Regions from separate parts of the Homo sapiens genome. Here region 1 is linked to region 2. Evidence: fine-mapped expression QTL. A gene starts in region 2. The other region holds a variant in brackets. All regions are shown on one strand. Distances are between the middles of the regions.

Region 1 (10,345 bases), 76 kb before region 2:
TGCGATCTCGGCTCACTGCAACCTCCACCTCCTGGGTTCAAGCGATTTTCCTGCCTCAACCTCCCAAGTAGCTGGGATTACAGGTGCCTGCCACCACGCCCAGCTAATTTTTGTATTTTTAATAGAGACGGGGTTTCACCATGTTGGCCAGGCTGGTCTCAAAATCCTGACCTCGTGATCTGCCTGCCTTGGCCTCCCAAAGTGCTGGGATTACAGGTTTGAGCCACCGCACCTAGCCTTGATGTATATATTTAACTCATTAAAATTAATTCTACTGGCTGGGCATGGTGGCTCATGCCTATAATCCCAGCACTTTGGGAGGCCAAGGCAGGCAGATCACTTGAGGTTAGGAGTTCAAGAACAGCCTGACCAACATAGTGAAACCCCATCTCTACTAAAAATACAAAAAAAACTAGCTGGGCGTGGTGGTACATACCTGTATTCCCAGGTACTCTGGAGGCTGAGGCAGGAGAATCGCTTGAACCTGGGAGGCAGAGGTTGCAGTGAGCTGAAATTGCGCCACTGCACTCCAGCCTAGGTGACAGACCGAGACTGTCTCAAAAAAAAAAAAAAAAAAAAAAATTGGCCGGGCCTAGTGACTCACGCCTGTAATCCCAGAACTTTGGGAGGCTGATGCAAGTCGATTACGAGGTCAGGAGTTCAAGACCAGCCTGGCCAAGATGGTGAAACCCTGTCTCTACTAAAAACTACAAAAAAGGCCGGGTGTGGTGGCTCAGGCCTATAATCCCAGCACTTTGGGAGGCCGAGGTGGGCGGATCACGAGGTCAGGAGATCGAGACCATCCTGGACAACATGGTGAAACCCTGTCTCTACTAAAATACAAAAAAAATTAGCCGGGCGTGGTGGTGCATGCCTGTAGTTCCAGCTACTCAGGAGGCTGAAGCAGGGGAATCGCTTGAACCCAGGAGGTGGGGGTTGCAGTGAGCTGAGATCGTACCACTACACTCCAGCCTGGCAACAGAACAAGACTCCCGTCTCAAAAAACAAAAACAAAAACAAAAACAAAACTACTGCAAAACAATTAGCTGGGTGCAGTGGCAGGCGCCTGTAATCCCAGCTACTTGGGAGGCTGAGGCAGGAGAATCGCCACTGCACTCCAGCCTGGATGACGGAGTGAGACTCTGTCTCAAAAAAAAAAGAAATTAATTATACTATCAAAATTAATAATTAAGTTCTGGGATGTACAGTCTAACAACTTATTACATCTTCATAATTAGTTTACTAATAGTTCATTTATTAATGAACCTAATAGGTCAAACTACAGAAGTCCATAGATGCTTTTGAGCCAATAAATTAGATTTACCATATTAATAAATACTTAGTTTTATTGGCTGGAAGGCCATAGAAACTATATGTACCTCATAAGGCTGAAATTTTAGGAAAAATGTTTTACCTCAATTAAAATATGTGAACAAACAGCCCAACAGAGCTTAATTATCTACATACCTGTACTGTCATGTAATTAAGTGGAATCAGGTGGTTGCTAGCAGGTTTGAAACATTCAGAAACCAAAATTAAAGATGAGTGTAATTATCGATAGGATTGAGTTGTTTATATTGAATTCTACTAAAATTATACCATGAAATTGAGGTCACTGCAATCACTAATGAAATTTTAGAAATTAAAGTTTCTAAAGTACTTAGAATGAGGCCTCTAAGAGCATCTTACTCATATTAGGCTCATCTTAGGCTCAAAAAGCCTTTGTCGACTCTCTCAACTCATTATCACCATCAAGACAAAACATCCACGCTGTCCAGATACATTTGGAATTTTGATGATTTAGCTAACGGTGAGAAAAACAAACCAAATCTGGATGTCCCTGCCACAAACATTTCCTTCTTTCTCTGCAGCATGATCCATGCCTCTTCCTCTCTGGGCTTTTCTTTTTCCCTTCCCCCGGGTGAACAGATGGTCTAACAGCCACTGGCAAGAATCTCTCACAAAGGCTTTACTGGTAATCCTTCCTTATGGTATTCAAAGTTACTCTAAGAATTGCTAGGAAATGCTTCAATCTGCAGAAGGATTACAGGCATGAAATTTATCCTACAGTTGGAAGAGCTTGAAAGTTGAAATTTAATCAGCCAGACAAAAGAAAAGCAGAGAAAACTCAAGAAATGAGCACCATCTGTTGAGTTCTTACCAATATGGCAATCAGTGTGCAGATGAGGGTTGCCAAGGGAGTCACTGAGGGAAGGACTGTGTGTTGGAACTGCTGAACCAAACCACTTGTCATTGAGGCCTTGGGAATATTGTTGGGATCAAGAAATTTCAATTTCAAACCTATTAAACAGATATTTTGTTTTGTTTTATTTTTATCTTTATTACTGAGATACCATATATTAACAATCAATTCCTTGAGGAATAAAAAGTAAGCTACTAAATCTTATTGCTGCTTAAAGGCTAAGATTTCATGAATTTAATCCTATACTATTCTACCCAAAATGCCTCTGGTCTTAAGATTATAATATATAAAGCAGCTCTTTGCATTGGAACAGGGAATTTGTGCAGCTTATAGGAAACTTGCTGGCAGGCAGCACAAATGGTAATCTGCTCTCACCTCTGAAAGCAAGCTTCTAGAACAGTCTGAGCATGTCATGAAGGAACTTTGAATCCTTCATCTCCTATGGGAGAAACCCTCTATTCCTAAACATAGTATCCAGTGTCTTCCATGATCTCATCGCCCCTTCCCCCCTGTTCAATCTCATCTTTACTTTGTTAAATGCGGCTTGGCCACAATGAAGTAACTGTGAGTCCTCAATATACCACTCTCAACACCTGTGTCCCTCTGCCCAGGCAACTCCCTTTGCCAAATTAACTTCTAATTCAATCACCTGAGAAAGCTCCTAAATCAATAAGCAGAACTGATTTTCTTGTGAGCTCACTTTTTTTTTTTGAGATGGAGTCTTACTCTGTCACCCAGAGACAGAGGCTGGAATGCAGTGGCGCAATCTCAGCTCACTGCAGCCTCTGCCTCCCAGGTTCCAGGTTCCAGCGATTCTCCTGCCTCAGCCTCCCCATTAACTGGGATTACAGGCATGTGCCACCATGCCCGGCTAATTTTTGTATTTTTAGTAGAGACGGGGTGTCACCATGTTGGCCAGGCTGGTCTCGAGCTCCTGACTTCAGGTGATCCGCCCATCTCAGCCTCCCAAAGTGCTAGGATTACAGGCCTGAGCCAACGTGCACAGCTGAGTGAGCTCACTCTAACAGTGTTCACCACAAGGCACTGCACTTGTTTATGTGCTCATTTCCTCTACTATACTGTATTCCTTGAAGGCAGGAATGATGATGAGTTCATTTCTATCCCCAGTACATAGGAGCTCAATAAATACTTGGTTATTAAATAAATCAATTCAGAGAATGACAATACAAGCCCCAACAAGCTCTGGCTAATAGGACAGTCAGAGACAGTTTGAGCACCTATAGGGCCTGTCAAATGCCAGTGAAAATGAATACAATGTGGGAAAGATGTACCAAAATATTTTCTACTTACTAACCTCTTCCCCTTTCCCCTTTGGCCTGCTGATTCTCTCTTACAGCTAATAACTATCTCCCTAAAACAAAGTTGTCTAACTCTGACACTGACTTTCCATGTAAAACATCTTCAAAGACACAAACATACAAGTGAGGGTACAGTACAGCTTCCTGACTCAGACAAGGCAACTGGCCCTTGTACCTCATACTATGCTGGCTGTTTAAAGCTTTTTTTGAAATATGAATGTTAGGAATTACTCTGTAAGAATGCCATGTACATCAAGGCTAGATTCACAGTGAGCAACACGGTGACACAATGTATAAGTCATCACATAGGCAGTGTATGATCTCCTCCAAGTACTTATCAAAAACAGTAATAGTGGCCACCATGCATGGAGCGTCTACCATGTGCCCAGGGCTCTGCACTTACTACTTTTAGCCCCCTGAGGTACAGAGATGGAGTAACCTGCCCAAAGTCACACAACTAATAGGTGGTAAAACTGAACTCAGGTTTGTCTGGCTCCAAAGTCTCTGCTACTGATAACCTAGTACTTTTTAAATTTTGCTTCTGTTCCTCACAACACACTGTATAGGTACAGGTAAAGTACTAGTATGTCTTTCGTATAGTGAGGAAAGTTAGACGAAAGGAAGCAAATGACTTGTCAATGCCACACACTGCAATAGCAATTTACACAGGTGAGCCTCCAAACCAAGTCATCAGACTCTAGGTCTGGAGTCCACAAACTATAGGCCAACAGCCAAATGTAGCCTGTGCCCAGTTTTTGCACAGCACTGAAGTATGAATGGTTTTTACTTTTATAAGGTTTTAAACAAATGTGTGCATACACAAATACAGACACAGACACACATACACACACACACACTGTGTGTGGCCTGCATAGCTTAAAATATTATCTGGCCAGTTACAGAAAAAGTTTGCTGACCACCACTCTTGATCATGCCATTTTCCCACCAAGCTAGATTGTATTCACAAATGAGAGACTGTGTTATCCAGAGTGAGTTATTTTTAGTAGAACCATCTCAAACCATAACTTATTTTTCATTACGACCCAATTTTAAAAACCATAGCCTGGGTTTTTCATTTCTTCTCACCTCATGTTAAAATGCAGGGTTATTTTCCTTACTGGTTTAATACCGAGAGTCACAACTTACATATTCTTCTTTCTTGTATGTTTAGGTTTAAAAGTGGGGTAGGCCAGGCATGGTGGCTTGTGCTGGTAATCCCAGCACTTTGGGAAGCCAAGGTGGGAGGATCATTTGAGACCAGAAGTTTGATCCCACTCTGGGCAACATAGTGAGACCCTCATCTCTAAAAAACAAAAATTTAAAAATCAGCCAGGTGTGGTGGTATGCACCTGTGGTCCCAGCAACTCAGGAGGCTGAGACAAGAGGACTGTTTGAGCCCAGGAATTTAAGGCTGCAGTGCACTATGATCTCAACACCATTGCACTCCATCCTGGGTGACAGTGAGACCCTGTCTCTAAAAATAAGTAGGGGTTTGAATAGGAATGGTGAGAAGGGGGGAAAAAAAGCAGGGTTAACTGCTGCTGCTGAATAGTTTTTTAATTAAGGCAAAAATTACCTTTATAGAGTGTCTACATATTTTATTTTTTCCCCAGGAAAGGATCAATAACCTCATTACCACAAGGAGCTTTTATAAGGAAAACAGTCTGTTTACTGCACTAAAGCCTCAGTCCCAAGAACTGCTCCCCCT[G/A]TTCATCCTGAAAGCTGAAATGCAGGACTGGAGAACAAACAATTCAGCCACATTCAAAACACAAAGGTTTTTCCATTTCTCCATGTGCCTAAGTCCTTTCAATATTCAGAGTCTGAGTAAAAAATGCTCGCTACCATACCGATGACAGACAGCACTTTGTCCAAAGCATTGTACAAAGCCCAGAAGTTTGGAGCCCAATATGCATGACAGAGGCCCCTCTTGAAAGGAAAGAGTCGGGAAAAGACTTGAGGCAGCTGATTCTGTTGAAAAGAGAAATGAAACTGATTAAACAGTCATCAATCTTTTTCAAATTCAAAAAGAGAACTAGGGAACTCTCTATGGTATAGTGTGTAGAAAGTTATGGGGTCTGGGTTCTAGTAAGTAAGTGGTTATATGCTCACCACAATGTAAGTTCACAGAACCTTCTTTTGGTCTCACTTTGTCCACTGTCCAGTGGGACAATATACATAAAAATACTCTGAATACCCGTCCATACTATTATAATAACAGAAGAATTTACAAGCTACAAAGCAGAACACAGACTGCAGCTTATCCATGTCTACTAGGGTGAAGGGGAGAGCTGGGAAACTACAAAAGATGTGACGCGTTTCAGTTTTAGTAAGAATTAAAATTAATTAGTTGATTTCAGGGCAGGGAAGAAGAGGAAGAAAGAAAACATCTGAACATCTGTTAAATTCTATGCACTTTAGAATGTCTGCTGTCCATGTAAGACTGCAAAATTATTGATTTTGTTACAAATACATTTTATCAAGTAAGTAAACTTACAAGTACAGAATACACAAATAATGAAGATCAATTCTGTGTTTGTGTATGTGTAATGTACAGTTAAACATATACATGTATATATATATACATATTTGAATGTGCACAAAAATGTCTGAAAGAATACTACCTTATCGGGCCAAGAGCGGTGGCTCATGCCTTTAATCCCAGCACGTTGGGAGGCTGAGGCAGGTGGATCACCTGAGGTCAGAAGTTCGAGTCCAGCCTGACCAACATGTTGAAACCCTGTCTCTACTAAAAATACAAAAATTAGCCAGGCATGGTGGCATGTGCCTGTAATCCCACCTACTCAGGAGGCTGAGACAGGAGAATCGCTTGAATCCAGGAGGTGGAGGTTGCAGTGAGCCGAGATCACGCCACTGCATTCCAGCCTGGGCGACACAGTGAGACTCCATCTTAAACAAAAACAAAAAAAAAAAAGGAATACTGCCCTATCTTTGGGGAGTCACGTTGGGTAAGGAGTAAGAAAAAAGTAGCTTTTACTTATTTTACATATTCCTGGCTTTATTAGGTTTTCTAAACACCAACAAAGAACATGTATTAATTGAAAAAAAAAAAAAAAAAGGCTTACCAAGGCCAGGAAAGGACCCAATGAAAGAGCAGAAACTAAGAAAACAACCAGTCCCAGGGAAATAACACGAACAAAGCTGAAACTCTTCCATCGAATAGACCCATCTACAGAAAAGGAACATTATCAGTAACCAGGAAGATGGAAAGGAACATTAACCATAACCTATATCATGTGCTAAAACTAGAAGTATCCCACAATAGTATACCAATCTATTCATGATGTGGCAAGAGCAGAGAAAAGCGAGAATGGGTAAAGGGCTTACAGGATTAGCAGCTGAGATATCTGCTGTGCTTCATAAAACCTTCTTATCAAGCAAGCCACCAAGTCAACACAGTAAGGGAAAAATCGAAAATGTTTTTGCTATTATTACCAAAACTTGCCTGGTTTATTTGCAGTGAAACAGTAGGATCGCAGCAGATATACACCATAAGCTGGTGCTACATAGAGGTAGATATGCTTGAAATGTAGGAGAACAGCAAAGAGAAATGCTCCTTCCATATGCCTTTTCTAGGAGATTTAAAAGGGAAATATCACTTTAAAATTCAGGGTAAATGAAATGCAATAATGTGGTATTCTAGATTGAATCCTGGAACAGAACAAGGACATTAAAGGAAAAACGGGTGAAATTCAAATGCATCAATATTGCTTTCTTAGTCTTGATGAATGTACCATGGTTATGTAAGGTGGTAATGGGGGAAAATGGGTGAGGGATATATAGGAACTCTCTGTACTATTTCTACAACTTTTCTGGAAAGCTAAAATTATCCTACAAAAAGGTTATTTAAAAAACTAAAATTAGGCTAAGTGTGGTGACTCACACCTGCAATCCCAGCACTTTGGTAAGCCGACGTGGAAGGATTGCTTGACCCCAGGAGTTCAAGACCAGCCTGGACAAAATAGGGAGGCCCTGTCTCTACAAAAAAATAAAAAATAAAAAAAATTAGCTAGGCGTGATGGCTTGCACCTGTAGCACCAGCTACTCTGGAGGCTGAGGTGAGAGAATCTGCTTTAGCCCAGGAGGTGGAGGCTGCAATGAGCCATGATGACGACACTGCACTCCAACTTGGGTGACAGAGTGAGACCCTGTCTCCAAAATGAATAAATAAATAACAAAAATAAACAATACCTACTTTTTTAAATTTTTATTTTATTTTATTTTATTTGAGATGGAGTCTCCCTCTGTCTTACCCAGGCTGAAGTGCAGTGGCACAATCCTGACTCACTGCAGCCTCCGCCTCCTCGGTTCAAGCAATTCTCCTGTCTCAGCCTCCCGAGTAGCTGGGACTACAGGCGTGTGCCAACACACCCGGCTAATTTTTGTATTTTTTAGTAGAGACAGGGTTTCACCATGTTGGCCAGGCTGGTCTCAAACTCCTGACCTCAGGTGATCCACCTGCCTCGGCCTCCCAAAGTGCTGGGATTACAGGCGTGAACCGCCATGCTTGGCCCAAGGTAAATATTCTATAACCAGTATAAGGAAAACATAGGCAAGTGATTCCAGCTAGCTTTTTTTTTGAGACGGAGTTTTGTTCTTGTTGCCCAGGCTGGAGTGCAATGGCACGGTCTCGTTTACTGCAACCTCCACTTTCCGGGTTCAAGTAATTCTCCTGCCTCAGCCTCCCAAGTAGCTGGGATTACAAGTGCCCACCACCACGCCTGGCTAATTTTTTTGTATTTTTAGTAGAGATGGGGTTTCACCATGTTGGCCAGGCTGGTCTCAAACTCCTGGCCTCAACTGATCCACCTGTCTCAGCCTCCCAAAGTGCTGGGATTACAGGCATGAGCCACTGCGACCAGCCCAGCTAGCTTTTATACTGAGTCTAATGTGTTCATAAATTCACTATTCCAACAAAGATTTATCACATACTAAGCCTTATGCTGAGATCATATCCTACATGTCATCAGTAATAACATACTGCAAACTCTCCTTTAGGAATTAGAGCCCAGAGAATTAAATTACCTTCACCCCTCACAGTTTCAGAATAGCTGGAGTTGATTTCCAAAGAAGGGCTGGGAATGAGAACATGAACAAATATATAGGATGCTATGCTACCAAAAAAATCAATTGAATTTTATATTGTAGATTAGGTAACTTATATAGCACTATCAGGCTGAAGGCACCAGTCACTGCACTTGATACAAACACTACTTAGGAAAACTAAAGGTATTCTGATGTAAAAAGAACAAACAAAGGCCAGGCGTGGTGGCTCATGCCTATAATCCCAGCACTTTGGGAGACCGAGGCGGGTGGATCACTTGAGGTCAGGAGTTTGAGACCAGCCTGGCCAACATAGTGAAACCCTGTCTCTACTAAAAATACAAAAAATTAGCCAGGCATGGTGGTGGGTGCCTGTAATCCCAGCTACTTGGGAGGCTGAGACACGAGAATCACGTGAGGTGGAGGTTGCAGTGAGGTGGAGGTTGCAGTGAGCTGAGATCGCGCCACTGCACTCCAGCCTGGGTGACAATGCAAGATGCTATCTCCAAAACAAACAAACAAACAAACAAAACAAAACCAGCTTACTATAACTAAGAAGTTATAGTAAGAATTTGGCTGGGTGGGGTGGCTGACACCTGTAATCCCAGCACTTTGAGAGGCTGAAGTGGGTGGATCACGAAGTCAGGAGATCCAGACCATCTTGGCTAACATGGCGAAACCCCGTCTCTAGTAAAAATACAAAAAATTAGCCGGGAGTGGTGGTGTGCACCTGTGGTCCCAGCTAACTGGAGGCTGAGGCAGGAGGACTGTTTGAGCCCAGGAGGTTGAGGTTACAGTGTGCTGTGACTCCACCACTGCATTCTCCAGCCTGGGTGACACAGCATGACGTTGTCTTCAAAAAAAAAGAAAGTCTGAAATCTATCCACCTCACAGGAATTTCGGAAGGATTAAATGAGATAACAGTCCTGATGTTCTGCAGGGGAAACTGCCACAGGGACCATGAAAGGCCAGTTTCCTTCTCTCATCAGGTGCGGTCTAGAATTGGTAGCTTTAGGAGTAATAACAAAAAAGAGTGGGAATGCTTCTAGGTCTCTCTTCAATTTTATAACTTATTTAAGATCTGGGTAAGGTCTAGCTGATTCCATAGTCAAATTTTATTTGTTCAATAAGCATCCAACAAATATTCATTGAACACCAGTTATATTCTAATTACTATGAAGCTTTTTATGGTTAAAAGAGAAAAGTTTATCCAGACATTTATAGTTGACAAAGAACTTTAGATTATCAAATTTGATCTTTCCAATGTCCCTGTGAGGTAAGTAGCCCCATTTTACAACTAAGAATGTAGCGGTAAATTTCATTTTATGGGGAAAATGAGGCTAGGAGGGTTAAATAACTTGCCTTCAGTTAATGGTTCTCAAGCCTGATGGTGTATCAAAATTCCTTAGAGAGTCTTAAGCCCCATTCCCAGAGACTTCGATTCCATGTACAAAGGGATGGCCCCAAAATCTGAATTTCTGATTTCCTCCTCTATAGGAGGAATAATAATTCTAACAACTTCACAGAATGGTTCTGAAGTTTACTCAATAAGATATATGTAAGCCAGGTGTGGTGGCACACATCTGTAATCCCAGAGACTCAGAAGCAGAGGTAGGAGGATTGTTCAAGGCCAGGAGTTCAAGACCTGTCTCTAATCCTAGCACTTTGGGAGGCCAGAGTGGGAGGATCACTTGTGGTCAGGAGTTTAAGACCAGCCTGGACAACATAGTGAAACCTCCTTCTCTACCAAAAAAAAAAAAAA
Region 2 (10,345 bases):
AGCCTGGCTAACATGGCAAAACCCCATCTCTACTAAAAATACAAAAAATAGCTGGGCGGGGTGGCGTGCGCCTGTTATTCCAGCTACTTGGGAGGCTGAGGCAGGAGAATCGCTTGAATCTGGGAAGTGGAGGTTGCAGTGAGCCAAGATCGTGCCACTGCACACCAGCCAGGGCAACAGAGTGAGACTCCATCTCAAAAACAAACAAACAAAAAACAAGAGTCCATAATGTTATTCCCAAAAGAAAAAAGAGGGTGAGAAGAAGGGAGTGAGAAAGATAGAGACAGGAAAAATTAATTCTTTTTTTTTTTTTTTGAGACGGAGTCTCACTGTCGCCCAGGCTGGAGTGCAGTGGTGTGATTTCGGCTCACTGCAACCTCCGCCTCCCAGGGTTCACGCCATTCTCCTGCCTCAGCCTCCCGAGTAGCTGAGACTACAGGCGCCCGCCACCTCGCTCGGCTAATTTTTTGTATTTTTAGTGGAGACAGGGTTTCACCTTGTTAGCCAGGATGGTCTCGATCTCCTGACCTCGTGATCCGCCCGCCTCGGCCTCCCAAAGTGCTGGGATTACAGGCGTGAGCCACCGCACCCGGCCAGGAAAAATTAATTCTATAAAAAAGAACACTAATAAACACAGAAGGAATGGCAGAATTAGAAAATTACCAATTTGCAACCCTCAGTGTTGTAATTCAAGCAAGGATCATCCAAGGATGTGGTGTGAAAGGTTATCAGGAACACATAATTATAACAGACTCAGAGAATCACTTCACAGATTACTTATTAATTGTAAGAGAGAAAAATTTACCTTTACGATAGAGAGATCAGGTTGCCATGACCTTAATAATCAAATTTAGCATTCATGGATAGTAAGACCCTGACATCATATCCTCCTGACATGCAGTAAGTACACACATTGCCAAAAACTTAAATCTAACCCCAATCTAATCATTGATAAACCAATCAAACATATTTAAATAGGTGGAGAAGCTCTATTTATTTATTTATTTATTTATTTGAGATAGAGTCACACTCTGTTGCCCAGGCTGGAGTGCAGTGGCACAATCTCGGCTCACTGCAACCTCCACCTCCTGAGTTCAAGCAATTCTCTTGCCTCAGCCTCCTGAGTAGCTGGGAGTATAGGCACACACCACCATGTCCGGCTAATTTTTGTATTTTTACTTGAGATGGGGTATCACCATGTTGGCCAGGCTGGTCTCGAACTCCTGACCTCAAGTGATCTGCCCACCTCAGCCTCCCAAAATGTTGGGATTACAGACATGAGCTACCATGCCAAGGGGCTCTATTTAGATTAAATGAGTTGATAAAAGAGATATAATAGGATGCAATATGTACATCTTGACTGGATCTGATTTTAAAAACCAGAAACTATATAAGGTATTTTTGGGCAATTAGAATTTTTTTTTTCTTGAGACAGGGTCTCACTCTGTCGCCCAGGCTGGAGTGCAGTGGCGCGATCATGGTTCACTGCAGCCTTGACATCCCCAGGCTCAGGTGATTTTCCCAAGTAGCTGGGACTACAGGTGCACGCTACCACACCATGCTAAATTTTGTAGTTTTTGTAGAGATGGGGTTTCACTATGTTGCCCAGGCTGGCCTTGAACTCCTGGGCTCAAGCAATCTGTCTGCCTTTGCTTCCCAAAGTGCTGGGGTTATAGACATGACCCATTGCACCTGGCAGAAAATTTTGAATAACTATTACATTGGGTAATACTGACTTCTTGCTTATTACATATAATGTATTATGGCTATGTAGTAGAACGCCCTTATTAGGGGATACATGTTGAAGAATTTAGGGGTCAAACGTCAATCAACATATCTGTAACTTACTTTTAAATAATTGGGCCAAAAAAGTGTGTGTTTGTGTAAAAGCACAATTGGCAAATTGTGATTTGGCGTATCTAGGTTAAGGGTTGTACTTTAAGCTTTTATGTAAGCTTGAAAATTTTAAAAATATTTGTATTTTAAAAGAGGGGGGAAGAACACTTCTTCATAGGGCCAATAGATGTAAAGTTACAGTCATTGTGCCAGACCCCAATAAGTCGCCAGATTTAGTAAGTTACAGATTTACTACTACTACTTAGAAGTGTGAAAAGCTCATAATTTTCCTTCCCAAGTGTTTCTGAATTTTGAAGGGTGAGGATGCCAACCAGGGCTAAGTGGTGGAGGAGTTAGAATCTAAGCCTGGGTGGGCAGTCTGGATAGAGCCACCACCCACAGAAACCACACCACTAGGCCTATTTTTTTTTTTTGAGATAGAGTCTCGCTCTGTCACCCAGTTTGGAGTGCAGTGGCGTGATCCTGGCTCACTGCGACCTCTGCCTCCCAGGTTCAAGTGATTCTCCTGCCTCAGCCTCCTGAGTAGCTGGGATTTCAGGTGCGTGCCACCATGCCCGGCTAATTTTTGTATTTTTAGTAGAGACGGGGTTTCACCACGTTGGCCAGGCTGGTCTCAAGCTCCTGACCTCAAATGATCCACCCACCTCAGCCTCCCAAAGTGCTGGGATTACAGGCGTGAGCCACCGCGCCCGGCCAGGTCTGCCTATCTTCTGTGCTGTGATTCTGCCTGGAAGAAGATGGCTGTTCAGGCCTTGTTTTTCCTGCCTCATCATGAACCCAGAATCTCTGTAACTCGGCAGGAAAGAAACTCCTGTCATGACTCACTGTGAATGTTGACAAAGAGAGGCCACTCCTGGGCCTCAGAAATGTCAAGGATGGGCAGAAAGAACTGGAGACAGGCCAGGCTCAGTGGCTCATGCCTGTAATCCCAGCACTTGGAAGGCCCAGGTGGGAGGATCGCTTGAGTTCAGGAGTTTGAGACCACCTGGACAACATAATGAGACCTCGTTTCTATAGAGAAAAAAAAAAATTAGCTGGGCATGGTAACACGTGCTTGCAGTCCCAGCTGCACAGGCTGAGGTAGGAGGATCGCTTGAGCCTGGGAGGTCAGGCTGCAGCAAGCCGAGATCACGCCACTGCACTCCAGCTTGGGCAACAGAGTAAGACCCTGTCTCAAAAAAAAAAAAAAAAAAAAAAAAAAAAAAAAAAAAGAAAAGAACTGGAGAGGCTGTGTGGGGTAGGGGCAGACCATGCATGGTATTCGGCATTACCTGGGTTTGCATTTGAATCATCCCCTGCCACTTACTAGCTGTGCAGCCCTGGGCACGTTCCTGGGCAGATGATGATGATCATAACAACAACAAACACTACAACGGCAATAATAATGGCTAACGTTTATTGAGCAGTTACTACCGTGCTAGGCACTCTATACATGTTAATCTCTTTCAATCTCACAGATTAAGTAGATACTATTATATACCTACTTTACAGACCAACCATACTGGGCCCTCTTCGACTTCTGCAATTTGGCATCTGCCATCCCCTCTGCCTGGACCTTGAAGACAAATCCCATGCATCGGCCAGGTCTCTCAGCTGGAATTCATTCCTTCTCCTCTGCATCTGCGGAGAATTTTAGTCTAACCCCTTACCACAGCCAACTTTACTTAAGTAGATGGATGCCTGGCTCCCTTGCTGGGGCTGGGGGTGCCCCTTTCTATATCCACAGAAGCACGTAGAATAGGGGAAGAGGAAGAAATTTCTCTCCTGTTTAGTCAGATCCATTTTCCCCACCTGGATTTTCAAAACTTTTTAATTTTGAAATGCTCTGTTCAATTTTCAATCTGGAATCTAAAGGGATGTGACAAGGCCGAGGTGATTACTTGGGAGTAAATGCAAGGAGAGTTTCCACTGCGTAAGGGAATGGACAGCACGTGGCTGGGTAAATTTCAAAAAAGACAATGCTCAGAGTGAGTACTGTGTTTTCCAGTAAGTGGGAGACTTCCCCACCTTACCCCACCGGAGAAAGGACTCTTTGCCTTGAAGCCCCTAGGACGACTACCCTTTCTTCACCTCCTCTTCCTGACCACCCCACATCAAAGAGCTGCGTCTATAATTCTGTCTTGCCCAGTCCATATCTCTAAGAAATCCGAAGGCTGCTCTATTACCATCACAACCCATAGGGAGGAGAGAAAAGGTGCTTCCTAGACACAGGGACCCCAGAATGAGCTGCGCAAAAGGCAGGAGGAGAGAAAGGTGGGCTGGAAGAAGGAGACCACGGAATCTGGCACGGCAAGGTATTCTTTCATCTGGCGTAGACCTCCAACAACCACTACCATCCCCCAGCCCCTTCCAGAACTTTCCTTCACCTTCTCGGCTCACTCTCACGCTTCACCTTGTGCTTTTCCTCCGGCACCAGCACCCCATTTCAAACCGCTCTCTTCCTATGTCTCCTCCAAACAGTAATTTATAAACACCGTGCTTTCAAATCCATCTCATTTCATCCTCACAGTACTATAGGAGGGCTGCCTTACAGGCTGTCATTCGGAAGGGTTGGGGGGACTGGTCCTGCCAGACAATTTGCGAAGGTCGGGGCATCAAAACTTTTCTTTCCTGCCTCCCACGCCAAGCTAAACCTCTGCCTCCCCGAGTGCAGGGAGAAAAGCAAGGTCTTTGAAGTAAGGAGTCCTGAGTGGTTTTAGGCAAGTCCCTTCGCTTTTCTGAGCCTCACATTCCTCACCTGTCAACCGCTATAGTGACGCCTCTACTTTTCAGGGCGTGGGAGGTCAATGAGATCACTGGTGTGCCGCACTGAACTCGGGGATGGACTCTTTATTTCCAGTCAGTAAAGGGAGGTGTTCTATGCATCACAGGCTTTTGCCCACGCCGCCACAGCGCGGCCGGCCCAGGGCTCTCCAGAGCGGGGCAAGTTCCCTGTCATCTGTGTCTCCGCCCTTCCTTCCCCAATCTCACCCAGGCTGGCCTCATCGGCTTGTTCCGCACCCACTCCCCAGCCCTACAGCCCCCACTCCGACCTGACAAGTGCCCCACCCCCACCTAGAGATCCCGCCTCTCCTTGCCCCACCCACCAAGGACTCCTCCCACAGTCCCGACCCTCATTATCCGGGCTTTTCCGACTATCACCATCCGCCCTTGCTCTCCCAACAGCCCCGCCCCTCTAAGAGCTCTGCCCACTTCGGCTCACCTCGCTCCGAAACGCGCCCCCTCCCCCGCACCACAGGCGATGCCATCCCCATTTCACAGATGGGAATGGCGAGGCTGGGATAGATTAGTCTCATGGTAAGACAGGTGCTCAGTGGGCCCACGTACCCTCGCCGGTAGTCCCCGAGCCCCGCGACCCCGGCCGTGCCGCACCCACCTCCTGCCCTCGCTCTGCAGCCTCTCCCTCCGCGAGCGGCCAGCGCAGCTTTGCGAGGGGGGCGGAGGGTAGGAGCCCAGCCCAGGGGCGTGGCGGTCCGGGGTCTGTGCGCTGCCTTCCGGGACTGGTAGTTCTCTCTGGGCTCCTCGCAGCTCGGCGCGTCGAGAGCGAACTCCATCTCCCAGGAGGCATTGCAGCGAGTTGCTCTGCGCCCCGCCTCGTCCCCGCCGGTGTCCGGCCGGCTGGCCTTAAAGGGGACGCGGTCAGAGTGGCAGCTCGCGGGGTGGCCCCCGCTCCGGCTCCGCCCCATTTCACGCACCTCGCCCCTCCCCATGCTTCATCCCGCAGCCCCGGGGCCGCGCCGCAGAGTCGGGCTTCCTGGATACATAGAGGCTTGTGCCAGGCGGGGTGGGAAGACTGGATTTTGCAGTGGAAGCAGCATCTCTTCCGTCTGGGACCTGGCTGAGGGCGTCCCCACCCTGGGGGGAGCAGAGGACCAGCCCTGACCTAGCCGGGCCCAGCCTCGTCCTGCCCGGCCTGAGCGCCCCGCCCAGCAGCCGGCTCTGGCCCACCGGGGTCCGGGAGGTAAGGGGGTTGGGGGCGTGTGACTGTCTTTGGGGGGCGGTGTCTGCACCCTGGCCTTTCGAGAACCCTGGACTTGCGAGCCCAGGGCTGGGAGTCGGGAGATCTGGGTGCATCCTGGGCCTCCTGGGCCTCACTGTGTGACCTTGGGCGAGTAGCTATTCCTCTCTGGGCATTAATCCCCTCCCTTCATCAATTGTATGTCGAAGTGATCCTGCTCCCTCCCCTTTCAGGTAAGAGGGCATTCGCACCCAGTACCTAGTACATTCGCTTGCTGGCTTTTCGTGGGGCCCTCCAGCTCAAGCGTGGGCTGGGCGCGGGTGCACTGGAGGGAGGGAGGTGGCACAAACTGGGGGGCCCGAGGCCACCATTGCTTGGAATGGGCTTTTCCTATTCTCAGTGTGCTGGGCCCTGGGATACCCTCCCCAACCCCCTCTTACGGCCCTGGCCCTTGCAAACCGGAGACCCTGATGTGTCAGCTTGGTGCCCTTCCTTCCAGAAAGCTTGGGGTGGAGTGCGGCCCTCACAGGTTTGTGAGGGGTGGCCCCGCAGGGATAGGTGTGTGTGGTGGGTTCCTGAGGAGGAATAGCTGCTCCTGCTTTCTTCCCTTCTCTCTCCTCCTTATCCTTTGAGGAAGAGCAGCTGCTTTTTACCAGTGAAACCCTTTTTTCTTTTTCTTTCCAGGAGACAGTTTGGTGGCCCAGACATGGGCCTCCCGGAGTAGGGTGAAGCACTTCTTCCCAGGGTTGCCTTGGGTAGAAGTTCAGTTAAAAAATACCTAGAGAGATGCTGCCATTCAGACACCTGAGGGGCCAGAGATGGAGGGCACCACCTGGTGTCGGGAGGGGCAGCCTGGTACCCCCAAGGAAGCTCTGGCTCCCAGGGGAGTCAAAGGAGGGAGGCTGGCTTCGAGGGTCAGAGAGGGGAGGAAATGTGCTCCTCAGCTCTTAGGTGCTGAGCAGAGGCTGGGAGGGGCTGCTCTGACCTGGAGCAGGGAGAGGTTGAGTAACACCATGAAGCCTTCTTCTCAGGTCCTAGGAGATTCTGTGAGCTTTTGACCTGAAGGCTAACCAGGAACAGATTTTTGTTTTGTTTTGTTTTGTTTTTGTTTTGTGCTTTTTCTTTTGCTTTGGTTGTTTGAACAATTTCTAGAATGGCTAAAGCCTCAGTCCAGTCCAGTGACCTCTGTAGGGGCTTTCTTGACTGATGTTTAAGATTTTCAGGGTTTTTGATATGCAAGACCAGGCCTGGGCAAAGGAGGGGGTGGTGACTGGACCAAAGGTTAGGCCAGTTTCTGGAAGGTACTTTTGTGGTTACATCTTTGGTTTTCTCTCATCTTGCTGTCACATGTCTCTCATGAGTTGCTTGACGCACCTTCACGGACACCTCAGTCCTTGGTTCTGTACTGGGCACTGGGCTCAGAGACGGGGATTGGACCTCTGCCAAGGGAGGTCCCAGCCTGGTGGGAGACAGAGACATGGATTCCAGTTATGCTGCAGAGGGATGAGAATAGCTAAGAGGGCCTTGGAGGCCAGAACTTTAGACACTTGAATTGTGGAGGGAAAAGGAAAGGCTTCCCAGAGGAGAGGGCATGTGAGCTGGGCATTGAAGGGTGAGTCAGAATTTTCCAGGAGAGAAGAGGGAAAAGCCCTTTTTCAGTAGAGGGGACATTGTGCAAAGTAGCAGTCAGGAAAAAGCCCCCTGCTCCAATGTCTGCAGAGTCTCCACTGAACAATGTTGCTTGAGTTCATCTCCACCCCTGCCCCACATCAGCTGAGTGTCACAGAAAGGGCTTGCATGTCCGGCTCAGGAGTTTGGACCTTATTCTGGGTCCAAGGGGCTGGAGAGTGTTGAGAGTTCTGAGCAGGGGCATGGACGGAATGGTGCTTACCGTGTAATAAGCTCCATCTGACGATGCTGCATCTGGAGAGACCAAGGAGGGATGATGAAGCTTGAGCGGGGGCCCAGGGCGTGGCAGTGGGGCTGAGCATAGGAGTTGTGTACACACACATACACACACACACACAGGGTGCTTTGGGGTGATGGAGATAAGTCAGGCTCAACTGTGCAGGAGCAGAGATCAGTCAACACTCGGCAGAAATGTTGAGGGTCATCCGAGAGGAACAGGTGAAAGGATCTGGGCCTTTTGGCAGAGGGATTGGGATTTTCCTGAGTGCTCACTGCGTGCCTTGGAGTGTGCTGGTGTTGCTGGGACGCCCCTCAGGCTGTCATGCCAGTAGGGCGAGGGGTATGAGGCAAGGGCTTGGGAGGAGCAGCAGCGCTGGCTGGGAAAGGCTAAGGGGTGGGCACGTAGTCACCTTCTATTTGGGCATTCCGAGGATCACAGAGGTAAAAGAACACCTACCTCCATGGTGGCTGGGCTAGACTCGAAGCCTGGACTCTGTTCTCCTCTAGGACACATGCCTCTGTTGGAGGATGGATTGAGGGAGGGAATTGGGAGATGGGTTAGGAGGCTACTGCACTAGTCCAGGCAAGAAGTCAAGGGGTCTGATCCTGGGTGGGGCTGGGAACACCGAAGTGGCAGGGAGGGCTAATGGAGGAAATGCCTTGGAGAATCAGCAGGATCAGCAGTGCGTGTCTCCTTGTCTCCTTTCCCTGACAGTATCTGTGTCTCCCATCAGTGCCAGGTGGCCCAAAAATAGACTCATGACAGCCCGGCCCTCATCTTTTTTTTTTTTTTTTTTTTGAGACGGAGTCTTGCTCTGTCCCCCAGGCTGGAGTGCAGTGGCATGATCTCGGCTCACTGCAAGCTCCGCCTCCTGGGTTCACGCCATTCTCCTGCCTCAGCCTCCTGAGTAGCTGGGACTACAGGTGCCCGCCACCACGCCCGGCTAATTTTTTGTATTTTTAGTAGAGATGGGGTTTCACCGTGTTAATGAGGACCTCATCTTTTTTATACCTTGTCTCAACCCTGTGAATGGTAGGCTTGGAATAGTCCCCATTTTCCAGATGAGAAGGCTAAGAAGCCAGGCAGGGGCTCACCCAAGGTCACCATGACTTTGAAGCAGAAAACCTGTATCTTCAGCTTTTAACACAGGCTCTCCTCGGGGAGGACATGGCTGCTGTTTGCTGCTGCGGTTGGTGCGGGGCAGCTGTCTCTTGAGTCAGAGCCAGCATGGACAGGCCATCTCCTCACCCGGGGCTTAGCAGGCTAATCCAGCCCTCCTGAGGGAGGCAGAGTGCAGGTTCTAATCCTGCTTTGCCAAGGCCATGTTCCTCTCTCTGAGCCTCACTTTCTTCATTCCTGCCAGTGGGATAGCTGGCCTTGTCCTCCCTTCCCTGGCCTGATGGGGCCAGGTGAGGTGCAAGCCTCTAAAACCCTTTTGTCTGAGTGCATGCAAGATATTGAGTGGGTTTGCTGGTGACCATGGTGACAGCTGTCCTCAGACTGCCTGCGTGGGAGTTGGGGCAGGTGGGCAGGGCTTGCTTGCTGTGGCCAGGCTACGGACTGAGCAGAGGCTGCCGGCTGGCCTTGGAGATCAGAGCTCTCATGGAGCAGCTCTATTTGAACTGTCAGCTGCCAGGCTTATGTGGTGTTAGGTAGAACAACATGAAATTGCCAACATTTGATCATTCGGTTTCATGCGGTTCAGTCTAATAGCATTTGTCCCCATTTTACAGAAAAGAGGCTCATGGGTATGATTTACTGAGGGTCACACAATGAGTCAGGGCTAGAATGTAGGACTCCTCATTCCTAGTCTGATACTCTTTCTACTCTTTCTAGTACTCTTTCTACTACCAGAGTCTTCCCTGTCTCCAGAACTCCATTTCTGCCTGCCCCCATGCCCTCTTGCTTCACACATGATGCCAGTGCCTCATGGATTAGGGTTTCTTCTTGGCTGCCTGAGTACCAGGATTTCTTGGCATCCTGGGTTGAAAGCATATGAAATCCACTAGCCATCCCAGGGGTCTGGGAGGATGGACTGTTTGTGTGGGGGAGGTTGGCCACAGCAACTGCCTTGTCACGGGCACTGCCTAGAAAGGGGACCAGGGCTGAAGGGAGAGTTAAAAAAATTTTTTTTCTTTTTTCTTTTTTGAAACAGGAACTCACTTAGTCACCCAGGCTGGAGTGCAGTGGCGTGATCTCAGCTCACTGCAACCTTCGCCTCCCAAGCTCAAGTGAGCCTCCTGTCTCAGCCCCAACTAGCTGGGACTGCAGGTGTGAGACACTACGCCTGGCTAATTGATGTAATTTTTTTTTTTTTTTTTTGTAGAGATGGGGTTTTGCCATGTTGCCCAGGCTGGTCTCAACCTCCTGAGCTCAAGCCATCTCCCCACCTCGGCCTCCCAGAGTGCTAAGATTACAGACATGAGCCACTGTGCCCAGCTGGGAGACCAGTTTTTAAAGACACTTTATAGGCCTTTTGAGATTATACCTTGCAGGGGCACCCTTACAAACATTTCTGCCTCCCCCATCTGACTGGAAGCTCCTTCAAGGCAAGGACTTTGCTTCTGAAGCAACAGGAGTTGACATTTTCTGAGAACTTCCTTGTGCCCAGCTCAGAGAGC

Direction of the effects. Alleles are on the strand shown, and positions count from the first base shown. SD is a standard deviation of normalised expression in the study named.
In carriers of allele A in region 1, the expression in spinal cord of the gene that starts at base 5,287 in region 2 tends to be higher than with G alone (moderate effect, 0.50 SD a copy in GTEx).

What was found.
Region 1: its variant is fine-mapped to the expression of KCTD21 in spinal cord (GTEx, PIP 0.93).

Annotation. Positions count from the first base shown.
Region 1 is chr11:78,107,281-78,117,625 of GRCh38, forward strand. ALG8 (ALG8 alpha-1,3-glucosyltransferase) reads right to left here. Exons shown (of 13, transcript NM_024079.5): 6 at 6,986-7,112; 7 at 6,606-6,709; 8 at 5,370-5,490; 9 at 2,162-2,301. Among named protein-coding and RNA genes, the nearest start is that of ALG8, 27 kb to the right of the region's middle. The variant G/A (reference allele first, on the strand shown) is at 5,231.
Region 2 is chr11:78,183,340-78,193,684 of GRCh38, forward strand. KCTD21 (potassium channel tetramerization domain containing 21) reads right to left here and starts at 5,287. Exons shown (of 2, transcript NM_001029859.3): 1 at 5,234-5,287. USP35 (ubiquitin specific peptidase 35) reads left to right here and starts at 5,580. Exons shown (of 11, transcript NM_020798.4): 1 at 5,580-5,818. RefSeq lists silencers at 5,004-5,343, 5,774-5,933.